4 linked regions of the Homo sapiens genome follow. Changing the gene in region 1 together with any one later gene gives a genetic interaction. Each region holds a gene or a part of one and is shown in the gene's direction. Other genes may lie near its edges.

Region 1 (5,069 bases):
TCCCAGGAGCAGATGAACAAAGAACAAGCAGGCTGGAAATTGTAGGAAATGGACATCCAAGAGCAGGATGTCTTCATTTAATACCTCAGAAGAAGAGCAATTCCAGATGTTGATACAGTAGGTGGTGTAACCAAGTTAAGAGTGGTAGAGGTGGAAGGAAGAGGAGGTCGTTGGAGTTGAGCAGCTCAAGAACCTGAGAAGTCCAAGCCCACTTGGACATCATGTCACCTCCAGTGGTGGTGGAAGTAGAAAGGAAGACTGAATTAGGTGCTGATATCTTCATCGAACAAGAAGACTTGCCTAGGAGGCTAGTAGATGATAACAAGTAAGGATGGTACAGCAATTGAGATTAGGAGGATTAGTGACTCTATCCCCAACCTCCTTTGGATATGTAGGTACTGGTGACACTTCCATTATTGCAGCCTGCTGCCACCATACTGTCCTTTTTCTAACAGGCTGCTAGATGGTTGACACAAACCAGAGAATCTGTAAATAGAAGGAAAAATGGAGGCTGAAGAAATTCTACTTTGATTTTTCTCCTTCTTCAATGTAAGCTTCCCTTAAAATAAAAAAATTGGAAGAGACCCAACCCAATCTGTAAGGTGCAGGACATTTTTGTGGATTATATTTTTTAAAAGTTCTGTGTAACTGAGTTTTATGAATTACATGATTACCTTTATCTGGAGGAAAATATCGCCTTTGAAATACAAGTCATGTCTTAATAGTGGAAAGAATGGATGCTTTATTCACTTGTCTCTAAACTCAAAACAGGTTTGTTTGGTTATTGTTTAGGCTGTTGGAGAGAAAGTAGTGAGAGATGCATTTCCGGAAGCCATTATCGTAAAGCCGTCGGACATCTTTGGAAGAGAGGATAGATTCCTTAATTCTTTTGCAAGTACGTATTCTTTCTTAATGGTAGAAGAGAGGGATACTGATTAACCAAGTTGAAGCTGCTCAAGCTAACAGTTTTCTCTGATTGACAGACTAAGGATATATTTTTTCTTTCCCAGTTGCCTTTTCCTCCCCTAAGTTTATATTTTCATAGTCAATGTAGTCTTTGTTATATTCCATATCAAAAGAAGCAACTTAGATTAATGGAAAGAGCATGAACTTGGGAGTCAGAGACTTGAGTTTAAGTCTTGGCCCAGCTAACTCTGTGACCTTGGCAAATATTCGAATATCACATGGAATAGTTTCTCTATCCTAAAATCCCCTGTGTTATATGTATTGATTCTTACCCTCCTACCCACCCCTAACCCCAGACAACCACTGATCTTTTTATTGTCTCTATAGTTTTGCCTTTTCCAGGATATTACATATATGGTTAGAATCATTGCAGTATGTAGCCTTTTTAGGTGGACTTCTTTCACTTAGCAATATGCATTTAAGGTTCTTTCATTTCTTTTCATAGCTTGATAGCTCATTTCTTTATATAGCTAAATAGTATTCCATTGTGTATATTCCATTGTATTGGATATTGGTTTATCCAATTTAGATGTTTCTATCTTGTTTTTCCCCCTGTTGCTTGTGTCCACCTAACATCTGTAATAATTTCTACTTAAAAAAAATTGTGGCAAAATATACATAGTATAAAATTTCCCATCTGCTATGGGCTAAATTGCGCCCCCTCATAATTCGTATGTTGAAGCCTTAACACCATTGTGAATTTATTTGGAGTTAGGACTTTTGGAGGAAATTGAGGTTAAATGAGGCCATAAGGGTGAGGTCGTAATTCAGTAGGATTGGTGACCTTATAAGAAGAGGCAAAAAGAGAGATCTCTCTCTCCCTGTGTGCACATACTGAGGAAAGGCCATATGTGAGGACACAGCAAGAAATCTGCTGTCTACAAGCCAGGAAGAGAGCCCTTATCAGGAACCAAACTGGCTGGCACTTTGATCTTGAATTTGCCAGCCTCCAGAACTGTGAGAAAATACATTTTTATTGTACAAGCCACCCAGTCTATGGTATTTTGTTATGGTAGCCTGAGCAGACCAAAATAGATTTTGGTACCAAGAAGTGGGGTGCTGCTGTAGCAAATACCTAAAAATGTGAACGTGCCTTTGGAACTATGTAAAGGTAGAGGCTAGAAGAGTTTTGAGGTACCTGGTAGAAATATGGACGTTAAGGGTGATTTTTGTAAGGTCTCAGATGGAAATGAGTAAGATGTCATTGGAAACTGGAGGAAAGGTGATCCATATAATAAAATGGCAAAGAAATTGGCTGATCTGTGTGTGTTCTAGTGGAAGGTAGAACTTGTGAGTGATGAAATTGTTTATTCAGCTGAGAAGATTTCTAAGTACAAAGTATTGAAGAAATGCCTTGGTTCCTCCCGACTGCTTACAACAGAATAGAAAAAGAGAGAAAGAGGAAATGAAGAAGGACTTGTTAAGCAAAAAGGAACCGGAACCTGAAGATTTGGAAAATTCTCAGCTTATCCATATTGCAAAAAATGAGAAAGCTTGTTTTGAAGAGAACACTAAGAGTGTGGCTGAACAACCATTTGATGAAGAGATTGTGGATGCGACTCACCAACTAACAAGCTATCTTGGCAGAAGCCAGGAATAGAGATGAGATTACATCAGCAAAGTCACCACCAGTTTGAACTAGAAGGGGCAGAATGAAAGAAGCCTGTCTGACTTCTGATATCCTACAGGACCAGACCACAGAGCTATTTGGCTGTGAATTTGAGCTATTCTTCAAGAAAAGGGAAGAATGACCCCAAAAGGGGTTCAGAGATGTTTAGAACTATCTCTTTGGTTTCAAAGGATGGGGCCATTGCCTCAGTTTAAACACCACATGGCCTTTGTCAGAGGCCTTGGAGGTGGGACCACCCAGAGTCTTGGAGGTACAGCTGCCTGATCCTTGGGGCTACAGCCCCCTGGAACCTTTGAGGTGTTGACCCTCTGCCCAGGAGAGCTATTGGGGTGGGGCTGCTGCCCCAGTAGGTCCTAGAAGTTAGAACTACCGCTTCAGTGGGTCCTGAAGGTGAGACCACCACCTCTGTGAATCTAGAAGGCAATGCATCTAGGCAAAGAAGATTATTGATTTTTAGTAGCCACCCTAATAGGTGGTGTTTCATTGTGTGTGTGTTTTTATTAGATTCTAAAATCTAATAGAATTTACCTTGCTAAGTTTTGGACTTACTTGGGAGTTGTTACCCTTTCTTTCTTACGTCTTCCTTTTAGAATAGGAATGTCTATCTTATGCCTGTCTCACGGCTGTATTTTGGAAGCACATAACTTGTCTGGTTTCACATGTTCATAGTTAGGAATTTTGCCTCAGGATGACCCACACCTTGAGTCTTACCTATATCTGATTTAGATAATATTTGGATGCGACTTTGGAGTTTAGAGTCTTGAGACTAAGACAAGATTAAGACCCTTTTAACTATTTGTAAGAGTACAGTTCAGTAGTATTAAGATATTTACATTGTTGTACAACCAATCCCCAGAACTTTTTCATCTTGTAAAACTGAAATTCTGTACCCCTTAAACAACTCTCTGTTCCCTCCTTCCCCCCAGCCCCTGGCAACTACCATTCTGCTTTTGGTTTCTATGAATTTGACCACCTCATATAAGTGGAATCATACAGTATTTGTCTTTTCGTAGCTGGCTTATTTGACTTAGCATAATATGCTCAAGGTGCATTCCTGTTGTACCACGTGATGTGATTTCCTTCCTACTGAAGGCTGAATAATATTCTGTGATATGTCTATACCACATTTTGTTTAATAAGCCATCCATCAATGGATACTTGGATTTCTTCCCACTTTTGGCTATTGTGAATAATGCTGCAATGACCATGGATGTACGAAATATCCCTGATTTCAGTTATTTGGTGTATGTACTGAGAAGTGGAATTCTGTAGCATATGGTATATCTATTTTTACTTTTTCGACAAGCCACCATAGTGTATTCCACAGTGGCTGCACCATTTTACATTGCCACCAACAGTGCACAAGGTTTCCACTTTCTCCAGATCTTTGTCAATATTTGTTATTTTCTGTTTTTTTTTTTTTTTATAATAGCCATCCTAATAGTTCTAAGGTGGTATTTCATTGTGTGTGGTTTTTTTGTTTTTGTTTTTGAGATTGGGTCTTGCTCTGTCACCTAGGCAGTGATACAATCACAGCTCACTGCAGCCTTGAACTCCTGGGCTCAGGGGATCCTCTTGCCTCAGTTTCCTACATAGGTGGGACTAGAGGTGTGTACCACCACACCTGGCTTAAAAAATATATATATTTTTGTAGAGACAGGTCTTGCTCTCTTGCCCGGGCTGGACTCAAACTCCTGGCCTCAAGCAGTCTTTTTGCCCCAGCCTCCCAAAGTTCTAGGATTATAGGCATGGGCCACCACGCCTGGCAACAATGTGGTTTTGATTTATGTTTTCCTAATGATTAGTGATGTTGAGCATCTTTTCATGTGCTTTTTGGCTACTTTATTATTTGGAGAAATGTCTGTTCATGTCCTTGGCTAATTTTTAAAATTGGGTTGTTTATTTTTTGTTATTGAGTTGTAGGAGTTTTTTTATTTATTCAGAACATTAAATACTTATCAGATATGTGATTTGTAAAATTTTCTCTCATTTTTTAGTTTGTCTCTTCACTCTGTTAATTGTGTTCTTTGATGCACAGAAGTTTTAATTTTGATGTAGTCAGGCTTATCTATTTTTACTTTTGTTGCCTGTGCTTTTAGTATTGTATCTAAGGAGTCGTTGCCAAGTCCAATGCCATGAAGCTTTCTCCTTTTGTTTTTGTCTAAGAGTTTTAGAGTTTTAGCTCTTAGGTTTAGGTCTTTGATCCATTTTGACTTAGTTTTTGTATATGGTATGAGGTAAGGGTCCAATTTTATTCTTTTGCATGTGGTTATCCAGTATGTTGAAAAGATTATCTTTCCCCATTGAATGGTCTTGGTGCTTTTGTCAGAAATCATTTGACCATATATGCAAGAGTTATTTTTCTCTATTCCATTGCTCTGTATGTTTTTCTTTACGCCACTGTTTTGATCACTACACTGTTTTGATTACTGTGCCTTTGTAGTAAGTTTTGAAATCAGAAAGTGTGTGAGAC
Region 2 (4,359 bases), on another chromosome or scaffold:
AGGTAATATAATACTATCTTGAAAATTGGCTGAATAATTTTAGTGCCTTAGAAAATACCAAATTCCAAATGAGTTATTTTAGAACGACGTATCAAAGATAAGCCATAATCTTTTGTTTATTACATAAAATTTGTAGTAAGCTACAAATTTTTATGATGTTTCCAAAAATTTCTTAAAATTCAGGTTTGGGGTGTGTTGTGGTAATTTATTTCTGCACACTTTAGGAGCTTGGTCTTTTGGGAGATACCTGACCAGACAGTGGGAAACCTGGGACTTGTTCCTAACATTGTGTCTGAAGGAATTCTTTTCAGCCCTAGTTTGATTGGTTATCTATTAAATGATCTAGAAGGTTATTCATAATACTGTGTTCATGGCCAGGCATGGTGGTTAATACTGTAATCCCAGAACTTTGGGAGGCCAGAATGGGAGGACCAGTTGATGCCAGGAGTTCGAGACCAGCCAGGACAACATAACCAGACCATACCTACGAAAGATTTAAAAAATAGCTAGCTGTGGTGTTGCACACCTGTAGTTCCAGCTACTCTGGAGGCTGAGGCAATAGGATCGCTTGAGCCTATTAATACAAAGTTAAAATGAGCTATGGTCACACTATTGCACTCCAGCCTGGATGACAGGGTAAATCCCTGTCTCTTTTAAAAAACAAGGAAAGATAGATTACTATGTATGTTTGTGATCTGAATGAATGAATTGATTATTTTTACATTTTTCAATGTCAGTGAGAAATACTAGAAAAATTTAAAGGCTGTGATAGCGGCCTTTAATTTATTTGAGAAGAGTCAAAATCTAAGTCCTAGAGATATAAGAATAGGTATACTGGACCTAGGAGTTCTGTATGTGGTTTAATATTAGCAAAAGGGTGTTGGGATATTAGGGCTTAAAAATAATAGTGTTGGCTGAGTGCAATAGCTCAGACCTTTAATCCCAGCACTTTGGGAGGCTAAGGTGGGAGGATTGCTTGAGCCAGGAGTTTGAGACCAGCCTGGACAACATAACAAGATACCGTCTCTACAAAAATGTTAAAAATAAGCTTAGTGCGATGGCACATACCTGTGGTTCCAGCTACTCGGGAGGGGCTGAGGAGGACTGATTGGGCCTAGGAGGTGGAGGCTGCAGTGAGCTTTGGTCATACCACTGCACTCCAGCCTGGACAGAGTGATACCTTGTCTCAAAAAAATAATAATAAAATATTAAGTGTCTTTAGTTGTTTTATAAAATGCGAACTGATCGTCCCTTTTAAAATTTGCAGATGCTTCCTTTAAATACCAATATTCGACTTGCGTACTCAAATGGAAAAGATGATGAACAGAACTTCATTCAAAATCTCAGTTTGTTTCTCTGCACCTTTCTTAAGGAACATGATCAACTTATAGAAAAAAGATTAAATCTCAGGGAAACTCTTATGGAGGTAAGATATGTGGAGCTTTTGCTCCTAAAATTCTGCTCTGCCTACTAATAACTCTTAAAAGTGCCTTTTTCTAAAATGTATGTACCTTTTGAGATTTCTTATTACTTAATATTTGATCAGTACATTATATATATTCTCAATTCTGAATTACAGTTATAAGCCCAGTTTTCTGATTTTATGTTCTCCATAAAGCTAGGACTAAAAATTTATAATCAAAATTAAATTACTAATTATTATATCATTTCTAAGGTTAAAATTTCAAAGACCTTATTTTAAAATTTCAGTTTTAATTCAAATAACATGCATTTGTTCATTTAAAGATATACAATTCATCGTGTAATCCCAGCACTTTGGGAGGCGGAGGTGGGTGGATCACTTGAGGCAGGAGTTCGAGACCAGCCTGGCCTACATCGTGAATCTCTGTCTCTATTAAAAATACAAAAAAATTAGCTGTGCGTGGTGTCACATGACTGTAATCCCAGCTCCTCAGGAGGCTGAAGCACAGGAATTGCTTTAGCCCAGTAGGCTGAGGTTGCAGTGAGCCAAGATCACAGTACTGCACTCCAGCCTGAGTGACAGAGCAAGACTCTGTCTGAAGGAAGAAAATGTCTCTCTCTCTCTCTTTATATATATATATAAACTTAAGTATATATATATATAAACATAAGTATATATATATATACACACACACACACAATTCAGTGGCATATTAGTATATATACAATGTTATACAACCATTAATACCTAGATCCAAAACATTTTCATCACCCGAAGGTGACCCTTTACCCCTAAAACAGTCACTTTCTCCTTTGTTCTCTCCCCAACTTCTGGCAACCATTATTTTGGTTTCTGTCTCTGTAGATATATCTATTCTGATTATACCATATAAAGGGAATCATGCATGTGACCTTTTGTGTCTGGTTTCTTTTATTTGGTGTTGTGTTTTCAATGTTCTTCCATGTTGTAACCTGTATCAATACCTCACTTTTTATCATGTCTGAAGAATATTCTCATTGTATGAATATTCAGTATTTTGTTTGTTCTCTCCTCTGTGATGGTACATTTGGGTTGTGATACCACTTATTGGCACCCAAGGCCTTTTAAATAAATGTCGTTCCATTAGGAGACATGATAAAAATACATATTGATCAACTACTATGTGAGAGATTTTTGAAGTGCTTTAGGGCATGTCAGAAGAAGCAGAGTTACTCCAGAGTTTGCTGTCTATTTGATAAGTATTGAAATCTGAGTTGTGATGAATAAAACATGAATTTTTATTTTCCCTTAAGGTGTAACAAGTGAAAAGCAATTTGAAGTTGGTAATGTTTAAGAATTATTTTAACAGTTTTGGTCTTCTGTGTAGGCCCTTCATTATATGTTGTTGGTATCTGAAGTAGAAGAAACTGAAATCTTTAAAATTTGTCTTGAATACTGGAATCATTTGGCTGCTGAACTCTATAGAGAGAGTCCATTCTCTACATCTGCCTCTCCGTTGCTTTCTGGAAGTCAACATTTTGATGTTCCTCCCAGGAGACAGCTATATTTGCCCATGTTATTCAAGGTAACAGAGCGGTTGGTTGAGTGTTCTTCCTGTTGCATACTGTGGTTTTGAGGTCTGAATCCAAATACTTCTAATCTGTGTAAATAAATTAGCTATAAAAAGAGAACCCAACAACTTCTCCATGAGTGTGGAAAACTAGAACATGAAAGGAGTTGAGTCTAGAACCTTGATTCTCAAGAGTGTGGTCCTTCTCTCAGTATCAACATTGGTTGTGATTTCGTTAGGCAAATTCATTGGCCACCTGCCAATCTACTAAACCAGAGTCTAGGAATGAGACACAGGAAACTCCTGTAACAGAAGTTGGTTAAAAAAATCACATTAAAACACACTTAAATAATTATAAAGCCATTTTTGTAGAATTACAGTGAAAAAAAATTTTTTCTTTTGGAGACAGGGTCTTGCTCTGTGGCTCAGGTTGGAGTGCAGTGGCGTGGTCATAGCTCACTACAATCTTGAACTCCTAGACTAAAGCAATTCTCTTGTGTCAGCCTCCCAAGTAATTGGTTGCAGGCACACACCACCATGCCTAGCAAATTTTAAATTTTTTAGTTTTACTTCATTTATATTTACATAGTTTTTTCTGTTGTGCTTTAAGCCCCAGTATTTTTATTGTTTTAGAGATTGGGTGTCATTTTGTGTTGCTCAAGCTGCTCTCAAATTCCTGGCCACAACAGTTCTTTTTGCCTCGGCCCTCCGGAATAGTTGGAATTATAGGCATGAATCCCTACACATGGCTGGCTTGTGGTTTTTTTGGTTTTGTTTGTTTTTAACTAAGCTTCTACACTAATGATTTCAGTGATCTAACGATTTTTTTCTTGATTGATATATTGTTGAGTATAGGTCCGTTTATTAATGGTTAGTCGAATGGCTAAACCAGAGGAAGTATTGGTTGTAGAGAATGATCAAGGAGAAGTTGTGAGAGAATTCATGAAGGATACAGATTCCATAAATTTGTATAAGAATATGAGGGAAACATTGGGTAAGTTAATAAATACTGTTAATCTTTACCTTTATAAATCTATTCTGGGGTGGAAATACATTTTAGGAAATGTACTTGTAGTTTCTAAATATTTTCTAAATGTATTGTTACTCATCAATAAAATTCTGCTCATTATTTGCATTTGAAACCATGTTTTTCTTTGTAGTTTATCTTACTCATCTGGATTATGTAGATACAGAAAGAATAATGACAGAGAAGCTTCACAATCAAGTGAATGGTACAGAGTGGTCATGGAAAAATTTGAATACATTGTGTTGGGCAATAGGCTCCATTAGTGGAGCAATGCATGAAGAGGACGAAAAACGATTTCTTGTTACTGTTATAAAGGTATGCAAGGGATAGGTATGAATTAGAATTGCTAAATAAGTATTA
Region 3 (4,117 bases), on another chromosome or scaffold:
ATGAAGGAAGTAAATCTAGTTTTCTCGTGGTTCTTGACAGTGATAGTTTTGCAAAGGTGCTATTACTGCTAGCTTATCACCTGATAAGCATTTAATTGAACTTCAAATACTTGGTCTAGAAATATTTACTGAGCACCAAGCAGCTAATATGTTTTTTATTTACTGTTTCACACATGGAGTGGGTACCTGAAGCTCTGAGATTTTTATCAAACTATCTGATTTTAATCTATCTGTAAAAACACAGTTTAAAGTATGTCTGAATATCAGCTCACTAATGGTGTCTGGGTTGGAATAATTATTAACAGTATTACCTTGGTCCTCAAGCATTGATAATAGCTCAGAAATGGGAAGATGGAAGCAGCAGAAATTTATTTGCGTTGCTGGGAGGAACCCTGGAACCACATGGAACAGTGTTTCTAGGAGCGCGACTCACAGAGCAGGGGTCTAGAAGACTTGTGTCCCTCTGAGAGCCAGAGTCCTTTTTGTGTGTGGAAACCTCTCAGGAGTGTTTGAGTCAAGCTGTTTAACTTTTATTTTATTTGTATTAGTTTCCAGCACACACAGCATTGAAGTTACTGGTTTTGGGGGGTTTTTTTGTTTGTTTGTTTGTTTGTTTTTGAGTAAAATTGTTTAACTTTGTTTAGCCCTCCCCTCTTCCCCGCACTCCCCATCCCACCCCTTTTTTCCTTCGTGACATTTAGCAACACCCTACATAGTTCATACTTTGGGAATTACTGTTAGGGTGTAAAAAAGTATATCTTTTCTACAAATGTTTACAGAGCACTTACAACTAGTTAATAAACTAAGCCAAATAATGTCTAGGGGTGCAAAAAGAAAATGTGAGGTACAGTGGTCGCCTGAAGAAGCACAGAAAGCATTACAGAATTGACCATAACCTGCGTGAAATAGTCAGAGAGCAGGAGACTCTGCCGTGGAGCCTGCGGGTGCTTTCGTGTGGAGTAGGGCTGTGGAGATTCAGAAAAGGGGACTTCACTGTGAACCGTAGCTGCGAAGAGAGCACTTGGGTTGGTGGCATCTAACCATCACTTCACCTGACAAAGGGTAATTTTTCTTTCTTTTTTTTTTTTTTTTCTTGAGACAGAGTCTCGCTTTGTCACCCAGGCTGGAGTATGGTGGCGCAGTCTCGGCTCGCTGCAACCTCTGCCTCCCGAGTTCAAGCAATTCTCCTGCCTCAGTCTCCCAAGTAGCTGGGATTACAGACGCATGCCACCATGCTCAGCTAATTTTTTTGAATTTTTAGTAGAGATAGGGTTTCACCACGTTGGCCAGGCTGGTTTCGAACTCCTGACCTCAAGTGATCTGCCCGCCTCGGCCTCCCAAAGTGCTGGGATTACAGGCATGAGCCACCCCACCTTGCCAAAGGGTAATTTATCCTTATTGGATGGGTGGAATCTGATGGGTAGAAAGGAAAAGGGTGTTTCAGGCAAGAAATTGGGATACTGGCTTATAATGTCATACATGGACACTGTGACAGGATTTGTGAATGCCTGAATCACCAGGCTCATAGGACACACAGTCTCTGGGGGAGCTTATACTGGTGGCTGGTCTCAAACGAAGTGTGCTGAGACTTACTGGCTTCATTCTCAGGGCCCACCTCCCTAACAATTCTCAAGTGGCTACTATATGCTGTCTGTAGCATACAGAAGGGAACTAGGACAGCCAGTTCTGCTGGCACCAGATGGTGGTGGATTTGGTTGTTTAGCTTAAAAGTTAAATTCCAGCTGGGTGTTGTGGTGCACACCTGTAAGCCCAGGAGGAGCACTTGAGCCCAGGAGTTTGAGACTAGCCTGGGCAACACAGCAAGACCCTGTCTCAAAAAAAAGAACTTCCAATGGATCATTAATAGAAGTATAACTATCACCCGGGTGCGGTGGTTCATGCCTATAATCCCAGTACTTTGGGAGGCCCAGGCAGGCGGATCACCTGAGGTCAAGAGTTTGAGACCAGCTTGACCGACATGGAGAAACCCCATCTGTACTAAAAATACAAAATAAGCCAGGCATGGTAGCGCATGCCTGTAATCCCAGCTACTCGGGAGGCAGGAGAATCTCTTGAACCTGAGAGGCAGAGGTTGCAGTGAGCCGATATCATGCCACTGCACTCCAGCCTGGGCAACAAGAGCGAAACTCCGTCTCAAAAAAAAAAGAAGTATAATTATCACTACCTTCATTCAGAAGGTCTGTGATGTACAAGGACAGCATTCAAAAAACTTCATAATTCTGATTTCAGACTCTTCTCTGCTAAAAGCCATAATCAGTGGAGGGTGAACCTAACACCTGAGGACTTTTTCTACCCAGAGCTGATATGAAAATTCCTCCAAGGAATAACATTTCAACCTTGTGTGTGACACATTCCGAAGTTAATTTTCTTTATCAGTTTTTGTCCAAACACATTTTGTCACGAGGCTTTTGACCTGTTCTTATTCCTATGAGTTTATTTTGTTAATGCAATTTGCCTGAAAATCCATGTTTCAATTCTGATAAGCACCAAATTTTTTCAATAATTATTAACTCACATTTGAAAATGGCTTTACAGATTTAAAAATTTTTTTTTTTTTTTTTGCAAATGGAGTCTCAGGCTGGTCTTGAACTCAGCTACTCAAGTGATCCTTCCACCTCAGCCTCTTGAGTAGCTGAGATTACAGCTATGTCCAGCTTAAAACTTTGAAATACATAAAGAGTAACATAAAACTTTCCTTCTCTTTTCCCCTTTAGGGTAGGTAGGGCAGGCGTTAAAGGAATAGAGTGCGTAGAGAATTAGATGCTAACACCAACAGTGGCTTTTTGGTGTTTGAATTTTCTGTTAATTGATTTCTTTTCCCATAGAAATTTTGGACGGTGTGGAACTTGGAGAGCCAGCCCATAAGAAAACGGGGACCACAGTGCCAGAATCTATTCATTCTTTCAGTAAGTTCAGCCTCTGAGGAACCGCACCAGTGACTAGCTCATTAAGAAAATAGCAGCTGTGTTATACCCTGAGAGGGGTCAACAAGATGAAGCAACAAAACTGCCTTTGAGCAGAAAAGGTTCCATGAATTTCTCATTATATTCTGAGGACAAAGACGGACATAGAGGAAGGATTGCTTAACACTTACAAAAGTGAATATTTGAGAAAAACAGGGCACCCATTGAACCTGTTGTATTGCTCCCATTCTTACAGTTATTTCTACTTTTGTGTATTCCAGTTGGAGACGGTTTGGTGAAACCAGAGGCCCTAAATAAGAAAGCTATCCAGATTATTAACAGGGTTCGAGATAAGCTCACTGGTGAGTGTGTCATGTGTTTACTTAAAAGGGACATAAAATCTGAGCACACTTTCCTCTCTGAGTGGTGGTCAGCCCCATGTCCAGTGGTGTTAGTGACGAGCTTTGGCACCATGCAGCTGACAAAGAGTGTCTTTGAGGTCATCAGTTAAACATTGTCTCTGATTCTTCTTTCTGATGACTGATAACAGTACTTAATGTTAGTTTAATCTCATTTAACTCAGGAGGTGAATAAATTTCTTTTGGGTCCAAAATCAGCCAAATTCAGAGAAGTGTTTTTTAATCATGTCTTTTTTTTGTTTGTTTGAGACAGTTTTGCTCTTATTGCCCAGTCTGGAGTTCAGTGGCTCCATCTTGGCTCACTGCAACCTCTGCCTCCCAGGTTCAAACAATTCTCCTGCCTCAGCCTCCCGAGTAGCTGGGATTACAGGTGCACGCCCAGCTAATTTTTTGTGTTTTTAGTAGAGATGGGGTTTCACCATGTTGGGCAGGCTGGTCTCAAACTCCTGACCTCAAGTGATTCACCCACCGCACCCGGCCGAATTTTTCTTTTTTTCTTTTCTTTTTTTTTTTTTTTTTTGAGACAGGGTCTTGCTCTGTCACCCAGGCTGGAGTGCAGTGGTGCGATCTTGGCCCACTGCAACCTCCACCTTCCAGGTTCAAGTGATTCTCCTGCCTCAGGCTCCCAAGTAGCTGGGACTACAGGCATGTGCCACCACACTCGGCTAATTTTGTATTTTTAGTAAAGACAGGGTTTCACCATGTTGGCCAGGCTGGTGTTGAACTCCTGACCTCAGGTGATCTGCCTGCCTCAGCCTCCTAAAGTGCTGGGAT
Region 4 (4,359 bases), on another chromosome or scaffold:
CATGGTGAAACCCCGTCTCTACTAAATATACAAAAATTAGCCGGGCATGGTGGTGGGCGTCTGTAATCCCAGCTACTCAGGAGGCTGAAGCAGGAGAATTGCTTGAACCTGGGAGGCGGAGGTTGCAGTGAACCGAGATTGCGCCATTGTGCTCCAGCCTGGGCAACGAGCAAAACTTCGTCTCAGAACATACAAACATCTTAAGATCAATTCAGTCAGGGTTTTTTTTTTGTTGTTGTTTTTTGTTTTTTGTTTTTTTGTTTTTTTTTATGAGATGGAGTCTCGCTCTGTTGCCTGGGCTGGAGTGCAGTAGGGCAATCTCAGCTCACTGCAACCTCCGCCTCCCAGGTCCAAGCTATTCTCCTGCCTCAGCCTCCGGAGTAGCTGGGATTACAGGTGTCCTCCACCACGCCTGGCCAGTTTTTTTGTATTTTTAGTAGAGACGGGGTTTCACCATGTTGGTCAGGCTGGTCTCGAACTCCTGACCTCGTGATCCACCTGCCTTAGCCTCCCAAAGTGCTGGGATTACAGGCATGAGCCACCACGCCTGGCCTATTTAGTGAGTTTTAGCAATTGTATGTACCCATGTCACCAGCATCCAAAATAAGATACAGAGCATTTCTGTTCTCTCAGAAAGTTCCCTTTTACCGCTTTCTAGTCCACTCCCCTCTCCCACAATTGCCTTTATTTGGATTTCTTAGTAATGTAGTCAGATGGGATATAGTTCGTATACTGTCTTTTGTTTAACATAAATGTTTTTGAGATTTATTATTTATGTTGTATATGTTAATAGTACATTCTTTTTATTTATTTTTTTAAATTTGAAACAGGGTCTTGCTCTGTTACCCAGGCTGGAGTGTGCAATGGCAGGATCACAGCTTCCTGTAGCCTCATCCTTCTGGGCTCAAGTAATCCTCCTACCTCAGGTTCCCAAGGAGTTGGGACTACAGTCATGCACCACCATGCCTGGCTAATTTTTAAATTTTTTTGTAAAGATGGGATCTTCCTATGTTGCCCAGGCTGATAATTTTTACATTTTTGTAGGGACGGGGTCTCCCTTTGTTGCCCAGGCTGGTATCAAACTCCTGGGCTCAAGCGATCCTCCTGCCTTGGCCTCCCAAAGTGCTGTGATTACAGGTGTGATCCACCCATGCCTGGCCTCATTCTTCTTCTTCTTGTTTTTTTTTGAGACGGAGTCTCGCTCTGTCGCCCAGGCTGGAGTGCAGTGGCGGGATCTCGGCTCACTGCAAGCTCCGCCTCCCGGGTTCACGCCATTCTCCTGCCTCAGCCTCCCAAGTAGCTGGGACTACAGGCGCCCGCCACTACGCCCGGCTAATTTTTTGTATTTTTTAGTAGAGACGGGGTTTCACCGTTTTAGCCGGGATGGTCTCGATCTCCTGACCTCATGATCCGCCCGCCTCGGCCTCCCAAAGTGCTGGGATTACAGGCGTGAGCCACCGCGCCCGGCCTTTTCTTCTTATTTTTTAACTGCTGAATAGTATTTCTCAGTTGACACATATATATTTTTTTTTATTAAAAATTTTTTTAGGCTGGGCGCAGTGGATCATGCCTGTAATCCCAGGAACTTTGGGAGGCCGAGGCGGGCGGATCACGAGGTCAGGAGATCGAGACCATCCTGGCTAACATGGTGAAACCCCGTCTCTACTGAAAATACAAAAAATTAGCCGGGCGTGGTGGCGGGTGCCTATAGTCCCAGCTACTCGGGAGGCTGAGGCAGGAGAATGGCGTGAACCCGGGAGGCGGAGCTTGCAGTGAGCAGAGATCGCGCCACTGCGCTCCAGCCTGGGCAACAGTGAGACTCCGTCTCAAAAAAAAAAAAAAAAATTTTTTTTAGAGGCTGGGCGTGATGGCTCACGCCTGTAATCCCAGCACTTTGGGAGGCCGAGGCGGGTGGATCATGAGGTCAGGAGACCGAGACCATCCTGGCCAACATGGTGAAACCCCATCTCTACTAAAAATACAAAAAATTACCTGGGTGTGGTGGCATGCACGTGTAGTCCCAGCTACTCGGGAGGCTGAGGCAGGAGAATCACTTGAACCCAGGAGGCGGAGGTTGGAGTGAGCCAAGATCGAACCACTGTACTCCAGCCTGGTTGACAGAGCGAGACTCTGTCTCAAAAAAAACAAAATGTGTAGAGTCAGGATCCTTGCTTTGTTGCCCAGGCTGGAGTGCAGTGGCACAATAGTGGCTCACTGCAGCTTTGACCTCCTTGGCTCAAGCCATCCTCCTGCACCTGTAGCTTGGACTACAGGTGCGCACCAAAACACCCGGCCAATTTTTGCATTTTGTGTAGAGACACGGTTTCGCCATGTTGCTCAGGCTCATCTTGAACTCTTGAGCTCAATCTACCCACCTTGGCCTCCCAGAGTGTTGGGATTATAGGCGTGAGCCATGGAGCTCACCCCTAAACCACTGCTACATAATATTCCATATGTACTTTTTTTTTTTTTTTTGAGATGAAGTCTTGCTCTGTCGCCCAGGCTGGAGAGCAGTGGCACGATCTTGGCTCACTGCAACCTCCTCCTGTCCCCGCCGCTGGGTTCAAGTGATTCTCCTGCCTCAGCCTCCCAAGTAGCTGGGATTACAGGCATGTACCACCACACCTGGCCCATTTTTTTATTTTTAGTAGAGACAGGGTTTCATCATGTTGGCCAGGCTGGTCTCAAACTCCTGACCTCAAGTGATCTGCCCGCCTCGGCCTCCCAAAGTGCTGGGATCACAGGCGTGAGCCACTGTGCCTGGCCCAGCCCATATGTACTTTAATTTAGGTTGTTTGTAATTTTTTACTGTTATAATCAATGTTTCACTGAATATCCTTATACCTACCTGTCTGCATATCTGGAAGTATTTCTCTAGGGTGGATACCTCACAATGGAATATCTGATTTGAAGAATATACACATACTAAATTATAGTAGATCCTGCAAATTTCCCCCTGAAAATGATTGGATTAGGTTATACCCCATCCGTAATGTCTGACAGTATTTCCCCATACCTTTGCCAACGCTGGATATAATTTTTTTTTTTTTTTTTGAGATGGAGTCTCGCTGTGTCGCCCAGGCTGGAGTGCAGTGGTGCAATCTTGGCTCACTGCAAGCTGCACCTCCTGGATTCACGCCATTCTCCTGCCTCAGCCTCCCAAGTAGCTGGGACTACAGGTGCCCACGACCACGCCTGGCTAATTTTTGTATTTTTAGTAGAGATGCGTTTCATCTTGTTAGCCAGGATGGTCTCGATCTCCTGACCTCGTGATCCGCCCACCTCGGCCTCCCAAAGTGCTGAGATTATAGGCGTGAGCCACCGCGCCTGGCCAGAATCTTTTAAAACTTTTTCCAGAGGCAAATAATTATATCATATTATAATGTGCATTTTCTTTTCTTTCTTTTTTTTTTGAGATGGAGTCTCCCTCTGTCGCCCAGGCTGGAGTGTAGTGGCATAATCTTGGCTCACTGCAACCTCTGCCTCCCGGGTTCAAGCAATTCTCCTGCCTCAGCCTCCCGAGTAGCTGGGATTACAGGCATGCGCCACCATGCCCAGCTAATTTTTGTATTTTTAGTAGATACGGGGATTCTCCATGTTAGCGAGGCTGTTCTCAAGCTCCTGACCTCATGTGGTCCACCCGCCTTGGACTCCCAAAGTGCTGGGATTACAGGCGTAAGCCACTGCGCCCGGCCTATGTATTTATGAATACATAATTTATGTATTCATAAATACACAAATAAATATATAATTTGCCTATTTTTCTATTTTTTTTTTTTGTTACGGCTTTTTTTTTTTTTTTTGTGAGACAGAGTCTCACTCCTTCATCCAGACTGGAGTGCAGCTGTGTGATCTCGGCTTATTGCAACCTTAGCTTCCCCGGTTCCAGCCATTCTCCTGCCTCAGCCTCCAAGTAGCTGGGACTATGGGCGGGTGCCACCACGCCCGGCTAATCTTTGTATTTTTAGTAGAGACAGGGTTTCTCCATGTTGGCCAGGCGGGTCTCGAACCTAATATTTAAATCTTTGTTTTTTTTTTTTTTGAGATGGAGTCTCGCTCTTCTGCCCAGGCCGGACTGCAGTGGCAGTATCTCGGTTCACTGCAAGCTCCACCTCCCGGGTTCATGCCATTCTCCTGCCTCAGCCTCCTGAGTAGCTGGGATTACAGGCGCCCGCCACTGCGCCTGGCTAATTTTTTGTATTTTTAGTAGAGATGGGGTTTCACGAAAGTGTTAGCCAGGATGGTCTCGATCTCCTGACCTCGTGATCCGCCCGCCTCGGCCTCCCAAAGTGCTGGGATTACAGACGTGAGCCACCGCGCCTGGCTTATTTAAATCTTTGAAGCAGAAAAATCCTTAAG

Evidence for each region. Genes that interact genetically often act in the same process or in processes that back each other up.
Region 2: changes in NDUFA9 (region 1) and XPO1 together harm fitness more than expected from each alone (negative genetic interaction), as found in Homo sapiens cells (one large-scale study listed by BioGRID).
Region 3: changes in NDUFA9 (region 1) and MTOR together harm fitness more than expected from each alone (negative genetic interaction), as found in Homo sapiens cells (one large-scale study listed by BioGRID).
Region 4: changes in NDUFA9 (region 1) and MED24 together harm fitness more than expected from each alone (negative genetic interaction), as found in Homo sapiens cells (one large-scale study listed by BioGRID).

The regions. Positions count from the first base shown.
Region 1 is NC_000012.12:4,661,741-4,666,809, forward strand, and holds part of NDUFA9 (NADH dehydrogenase [ubiquinone] 1 alpha subcomplex subunit 9, mitochondrial precursor), read left to right. Parts: intron 1-792; coding exon 793-895; intron 896-5,069. UniProt on the Homo sapiens protein: Accessory subunit of the mitochondrial membrane respiratory chain NADH dehydrogenase (Complex I), that is believed not to be involved in catalysis. Required for proper complex I assembly.
Region 2 is NC_000002.12:61,492,522-61,496,880, reverse strand, and holds part of XPO1 (exportin-1), read left to right. Parts: coding exon 1-2; intron 3-1,267; coding exon 1,268-1,426; intron 1,427-2,789; coding exon 2,790-2,987; intron 2,988-3,827; coding exon 3,828-3,966; intron 3,967-4,132; coding exon 4,133-4,314; intron 4,315-4,359. UniProt on the Homo sapiens protein: Mediates the nuclear export of cellular proteins (cargos) bearing a leucine-rich nuclear export signal (NES) and of RNAs.
Region 3 is NC_000001.11:11,108,459-11,112,575, reverse strand, and holds part of MTOR (serine/threonine-protein kinase mTOR), read left to right. Parts: intron 1-2,846; coding exon 2,847-2,927; intron 2,928-3,205; coding exon 3,206-3,286; intron 3,287-4,117. UniProt on the Homo sapiens protein: Serine/threonine protein kinase which is a central regulator of cellular metabolism, growth and survival in response to hormones, growth factors, nutrients, energy and stress signals.
Region 4 is NC_000017.11:40,043,574-40,047,932, reverse strand, and holds part of MED24 (mediator of RNA polymerase II transcription subunit 24), read left to right. Parts: intron 1-4,359. UniProt on the Homo sapiens protein: Component of the Mediator complex, a coactivator involved in the regulated transcription of nearly all RNA polymerase II-dependent genes.